2 separate regions of the Homo sapiens genome follow, and region 1 is linked to region 2. Evidence: fine-mapped expression QTL. A gene starts in region 2. The other region holds a variant in brackets. All regions are shown on one strand. Distances are from middle to middle. Region 1 holds the start of GPR4 (G protein-coupled receptor 4). Region 2 holds the start of GEMIN7-AS1 (GEMIN7 antisense RNA 1).

Region 1 (2,907 bases), 510 kb after region 2:
AGGGCAACCTAGTGAGACCCCGCAGCATCGCGGGCAGCCGGGGAGGACCCGGCACTTACCTGCGCGCGGCGACTGGACGGGGCGGGCGGCGGCACCTCTCTCCGCTGCGTCCAGGTCCCCGGTCTTGACAACGGCGCGGGGACCCAGCGGATGCCCCCGCGGGGCAGAACAGCGGCTACTCCTCCCGGCCCCCGGGCCAGAGCCGCCAGCCGAGGCCCCGCCCCGGCCAGGCCCGCCCCCATTAACCCCACCTTTGCCGCTGCCCCTTAACCCCTTTCAGGCTTCACCCCATTAAACGCCTCCAGCCACGGGTGAGGCTCATCTGCTACTGGAACACCCCCGAATCCTTCCAAGTCCCCAGCTGGAAGGTCCCCTCTCTCCAACCACACACCCCCAAATTTATCAGGTCCTCGGCTATGGGAAGAGGAGGCCCCCGCTACTGACCTTCCCTGGGTTAAGCCATTTCCTCCCTTAGAGACCCCAGGCTTCAGTCATTCATCCTCTGGTCATTAACCTTCTGCATCTTCCTCCCCAACAACGGAGAGAATAAAGGGTTCTGTTAGGTCCCCAACTCCAAAGTCAGGGCCACCCCTAGAAGGAGCTCTGGGGTTGCATTTCCAGCCTGACTCTTGGTCAGACCTTAGGCTAGTGACATCTCCGTGCCTCAGTTTCCTCTTTGAATCAAGGTGGTCACTCATGGTGCCTGCTTGCTTCCTTCTTTTCTTTGCTTTGCTTTGCTTTGCTTTTTTCTTTCTTTTCTTTCGAGACAGAGTCATGCTCTGTTGCCCAGACTGGAGTGCAGTGGCACAATCTTGGCTCACTGCAATCTCTGCCTTCCAGGTTCAAGCGATTCTCCTGCCTCAGCCTCCCGAGTAGCTGGGATTACAGGCACACACCACCACGCCCGGCTAATTTTTGTATTTTTAATAGAGACGGGGTTTCACCAAGTTGGCCAGGCTGGTCTCGAACTCCTAAGCTCCAGCTATCTGCCCACCTCGGCCTCCAAAAAGTGTTGGGATTACAGGCGTGAGCCACCGTGCCCCACCTTTTTTCTTTTTTTGAGACAGGTTTTCACTCTCTTGCCCAGTCTGGAGTTCAGTGGCA[C/T]GATCATGGCTCCCTGCGGCCTCAACCTTCCAGGCTCAAGTGATCCTCCCACCTCAGCCTCCTGAGTTGCTGGGACTACAGGCGTGTGCCACCACACCTGGCCAATTTAAAAAATTTTTTTTTTCTATAGACAGGGGTCTCACTATGTTGTCTAGGCTGGTCTCAAACTCCTGGGCTCAAGCCATCCTTCTGCTTTGGCCTCCCAAAGTGCTGGGATTATAAGCCTGAGCCACCGAGGCCGGCCATCATGGTCCTTTTCTCCTGGCGGTCTCATTTAATGGTGTCAATGCTATCAAGTCTGTAAAATATGCCAACCAGACCCCAACACTCCCCATCTTTCTCTGCCTCACTTTTCCCCTACCCTTTGGGGAAGGCAACATTCTCTTATTTTTTTCTAGTTGTCTGCCTTCCTACTAGGAAGAGTGTCATTTTTGTGTCTGGCTTGTTTACTGTTGCATGTCTGTTGCCTAGAAGACTGCTGGGCAGGTGATAGGTGTGAAACACATTGTTTTCTGGCCGAGCGTGGTGGCTCACGCCTGTAATCCCAGCACTTTGGGAGGCTGAGGCAGGCGGATCACGAGGTCAGGAGATGGAGACCATCCTGGCTAACACAGTGAAACCCCATCTCTACTAAAAATACAAAAAAATTAGCCAGATGTGATGGTGGGCGCCTGTTGTCCCAGCTAATCAGGAGGCTGAGGCAGGAGAACGGCATGAACCCGGGAGGCGGAGCTTGCAGTGAGCCAAGACCGCGCCACTGCACTCCAGCCTGGGTGACAGAGCAAGACTCCATCTCAAAACAAAAAACAAAAAACATTGTTTTCAGGGAGTGAACAAATGAATGATAAGTGCTCCTAAAACATTAGCTTATTTTTATTATTAACATCACATCTTTCATAAACTAATCATGAGAATTCATTATTGGTCAAGGGACTTCAGATAGATGTGGCATATAACACTAAAAAATGATAGCTGTCAGGTTTGATTTTTTTTTTTTTTTTTGAGACAGAGTCTTGCTGTGCCCAGGCTGGAGTGCAGGGACATGATCTCAGCTCAATACAACCTCCTCCTGCCGGGTACAAGCAATTCTCCTGTCTCAGCCTCTGGTAGCTGGGTATACAGGCATGCACCACCACACCCAGCTAATTTTTTTGTTTTTAGTAGAGACAGGGTTTCACCATGTTGGCCAGGCTGGTCTCGAACTCCTGACCTCAGGTCATCTGCCTGCCACGGCCTCCCAAAGTGCTGGGATTACAGGCATGAGCCACGGCACCTGGCTTGTTTTTTGTTTTTTTGAGACAGAGTCTTGCTCTGTCCCCCAGGCTGGAGTGCCATTGTGCCATCTCAGTTAACTGCAACCTCCACCTCCCAGGTTCAAGTGATTATCCTGCCTCAGCCTCCCGAGTAGCTGGGACTACAGGTGAACACCACCACACCCGGCTACTTTTTGTGTTTTTAGTAGAGACAGGTTTTCACCATGTTGGCCAGGCTGGTCTCGAACTCCTGACCTCAGGTGATCAGCCTGCCTAGGTCTCCCAAAGTGCTGGGATTATAGGCATCAGCCATCGCGCCCAGCTCTTTTGTGTTTATTTTTAAATTAAATTAAAATGTAGGCCAGGCATGGTGGTTCATGCCTGTAATCCCATCACTTTAGGAGGCCAAGGCAGGTTGATCAATTGAAGCCAGGAGTTTGAGATCAACCTGGGCAACATAGCAAGACTCTGTCTCTACAAAAAAAAAATTTCTTTTAACTAGCCAGCTGGGTGGTGCGTGCCTGTGGTCCCAGCTACTGCGCAGGCCAAG
Region 2 (2,907 bases):
GTAGCTGGGACTACAGGCGCATGACACCACACCCGGCTAATTTTTGTATTTTTGGTAGAGGCGGGGTTTCGCCATGTTGACCAGGCTGGTCTCGAATTCCTGACCTCAAGTGATTCGCCCACCTTGGCCTCCCAAAGTGTTGGGATTACAGGTGTGAGCCACCGCACCCGGCCCTATCCACACATTTTTGCATCTATTCCTTTTATATTTATTTACTTGCCAGTCTACAGTAAGGATTATATTTTCCTTCTCTTCCTTATTTATTCATTTATTTATTATTGGTATGGATTCTGGATTTCTGTTTTATCCAGTGGGTTATAATCTGTAACTATCATTATTGTATTGTTCAAATAATTCCAGATTTGGCCACTGGGAGCCCTTTCAAGCTAGCTCATGTGTGAGTGGGAATCTATCTAGAAGATAGAATTTCCTGATGGATTGGGTGGGTTGTGTGTGAGAGAAAGCTGGGGTTTATTCTTTTTTTTAGAGACAGTGTCTCACTCTGTCACCCAAGCTGGAGTGCAGTTGCACAATTACAGCTCACTGCAGCCTCCATCTCCTGGGCTCAACTAATCCTTCTCCCTCAGCCTCCTGAGTAGCCCAGCTAATGTAAAATATATATATATATTTTTAGAAATGGGGTCTCGCTATATTGCCCAGGCTGGTCTCAAACTCCCAGCTTCAAAGTGATCCTCCTGCCTTGGCCTCCCAAAGGGCTGGGATTACAGGCATGAGCCACCATGCCTGGCCAGGTTCATCTTTTGGCAAATATTTATTGCCTATAAGTTGAGATAAAAACATTATAAAAGCAGACAAAGGTCCTTGCCTTCACGGGGCTCATGTTTTTGTGCATGTGACACTTTTGTTTCTGATCCAAGCCATTGGGGGACGATGGCACAGATTTTAGGAGGGTGGATCAGTCTGGGGCAGGTGCAGTGGAGCTGCCTGGTAGACCAGCCTCTGCTTCCACTCCTCCCTCCTCCATTAGCCCCATGCTTACCATGTAATGACTTCCTGCTCTTTTTCTTCACTCAACAGCCAAGACAATGCAAACTCCAGTGAACATTCCCGTGCCTGTGCTCCGGCTGCCCCGGGGCCCTGATGGCTTCAGCCGTGGCTTTGCCCCTGATGGACGCAGAGCCCCCTTGAGGCCAGAGGTTCCTGAAATCCAGGAGTGTCCCATAGCTCAAGAATCCCTGGAATCCCAGGAGCAGCGGGCACGAGCCGCCCTTCGGGAGCGTTACCTCCGCAGCCTGCTGGCCATGGTGGGTCATCAGGTGAGCTTCACGTTGCACGAGGGTGTGCGTGTGGCCGCCCACTTTGGAGCCACCGACCTGGATGTGGCCAACTTCTACGTGTCACAGCTGCAGACTCCCATAGGTGTGCAAGCAGAGGCGCTGCTCCGATGTAGTGACATTATTTCATATACCTTCAAGCCATAAAGATATTGTGTTCACTTTTCTGCTTGAGGCTAAGGCACTGTATCCCAGGCCTCCCAATGTTCCCGAGCCAGGAACTCTGGGCCCCATGGAGTTATGAGCTCCCTTGGAATTTTGAGCCAAGCTTTAAGCAAGTCTGGACTCCTGAGACCTCCTGGGTCTAGTCAGTAAAATTCTGCAACTCTAGGAATTCTAAGATCCCATTGGAAGGAATGCTCTACCTCACAGAACTCTGAACCCTACAGAAATATGGGCCTGCTGCCATTTCCTGAAGACCGGGGCATCGGGGTGGGGTGATAAAGGATACAACCTGCACAGGGGGAAGTTATTAAAGAGGCTGCAAAGTCCAGCCACCCTGAAGATACTCCCCAGTGCTCCCCTCCTGCTAAAGAACCAGTTACCCCAGGAAAATTCGACTCCTGTTTTTCTTTAATTAACTATACCGACGGGGATGGAGTCATCTTTAGGGGCTGGTAGGGTGGTTATCCAAGGGCTGAATCCAGTGGAGCTGGGCCAAGTACGACAGGAGTCCAGATAAAGGTGTAGGGGCTGCACGGCCGCAAGTCTCCTGGAAAGGCTGGAGTGACCGGCATGCCGGGATTGGGAGATTAGGATTTGATTTCATTTTGGGGCGGGCGGTGGCTCGTGCTGGGTCACGTGGTCGTGCCCAAGCGCTCCTCCTGTTGCCCCACCTGTGGTTGCTGTGGACTGCACACGACAGCAGATTCGCTGTCCCCTCGTTGGAGGCGAATGGTCGGACCCCGAGTGGCGGCGCCCCTGATAAAAGGCCGAGGATTCGCGATCAGGGTGCAACTTCACTCCCTCCTCTTTTCTCTCCAGCCTTGCAGCGTGGCCGTTCACATCACGCGCTTCACTAAGCCTCCTATCACTAGTAACCTTTCAGCGCATTGTTTAAAAAGAAAGCAGTTTCTGTCCCTTTCTGTAGTTCCTTTAAGTTCAGGATGTAAGCGAAGCCTTCCATTAAGTAAAGGTGAGTGTCGTTTCGTCTCAGTCGCGAAAGTGCGGCGGCCGATGATGAACCGCGCCAGGAGCAGCCTCAGCGGCCATCAGTCCATTCGCAGCGCCGGCTCCGCCGAGGCCCGGACTTAGCTCTCGAGTTGCCTTGGCGACGACGCAGCTCGCTCCGCCCCAGTTCCCTTTTATGGTTTCAGCCCCGCCTCCTCTAGTTAGCCGGGTGCGCTTCGGCAAGCGTGGCGAAAGTGCGGCGGCGAATGTCAAGCGTTGGGTCTGAGCCTAGGGGTGTGGCTTGAGCTCACGCTGGTTCTTTCTTGCCTCGGTGATCCACCAGCCTTGTCACCCAGGATTTAGGTTGGCAGATTCGTCTCTCGCCTTTGGAATTTCTACCTTCTCCTAGGTTTTGTTTTTTAAAATCAGGCCTATGATACCGCTCATGGGCTCATATTTATTTTAGCATTGTAATTTAAGTTGTATTTTATGCAACTCTACC

What was found. PIP is the estimated chance that this variant, and not a neighbour inherited with it, causes the effect.
Region 1: its variant is fine-mapped to the expression of GEMIN7-AS1 in sigmoid colon (GTEx, PIP above 0.99).

What each region holds. Positions count from the first base shown.
Region 1 is chr19:45,602,036-45,604,942 of GRCh38, forward strand. GPR4 (G protein-coupled receptor 4) reads right to left here and starts at 177. Exons shown (of 2, transcript NM_005282.3): 1 at 60-177. The variant C/T (reference allele first, on the strand shown) is at 1,105.
Region 2 is chr19:45,089,069-45,091,975 of GRCh38, forward strand. It overlaps GEMIN7-AS1 (GEMIN7 antisense RNA 1), which reads right to left and starts at 1,323. Exons shown (of 2, transcript NR_134887.1): 1 at 1,001-1,323. GEMIN7 (gem nuclear organelle associated protein 7) reads left to right here. Exons shown (of 3, transcript NM_024707.3): 3 at 1,039-2,450. The coding sequence starts at 1,047. The coding sequence ends at 1,442. RefSeq lists silencers at 608-781, 2,482-2,666 and enhancers at 723-1,718, 1,719-2,713, 2,324-2,373.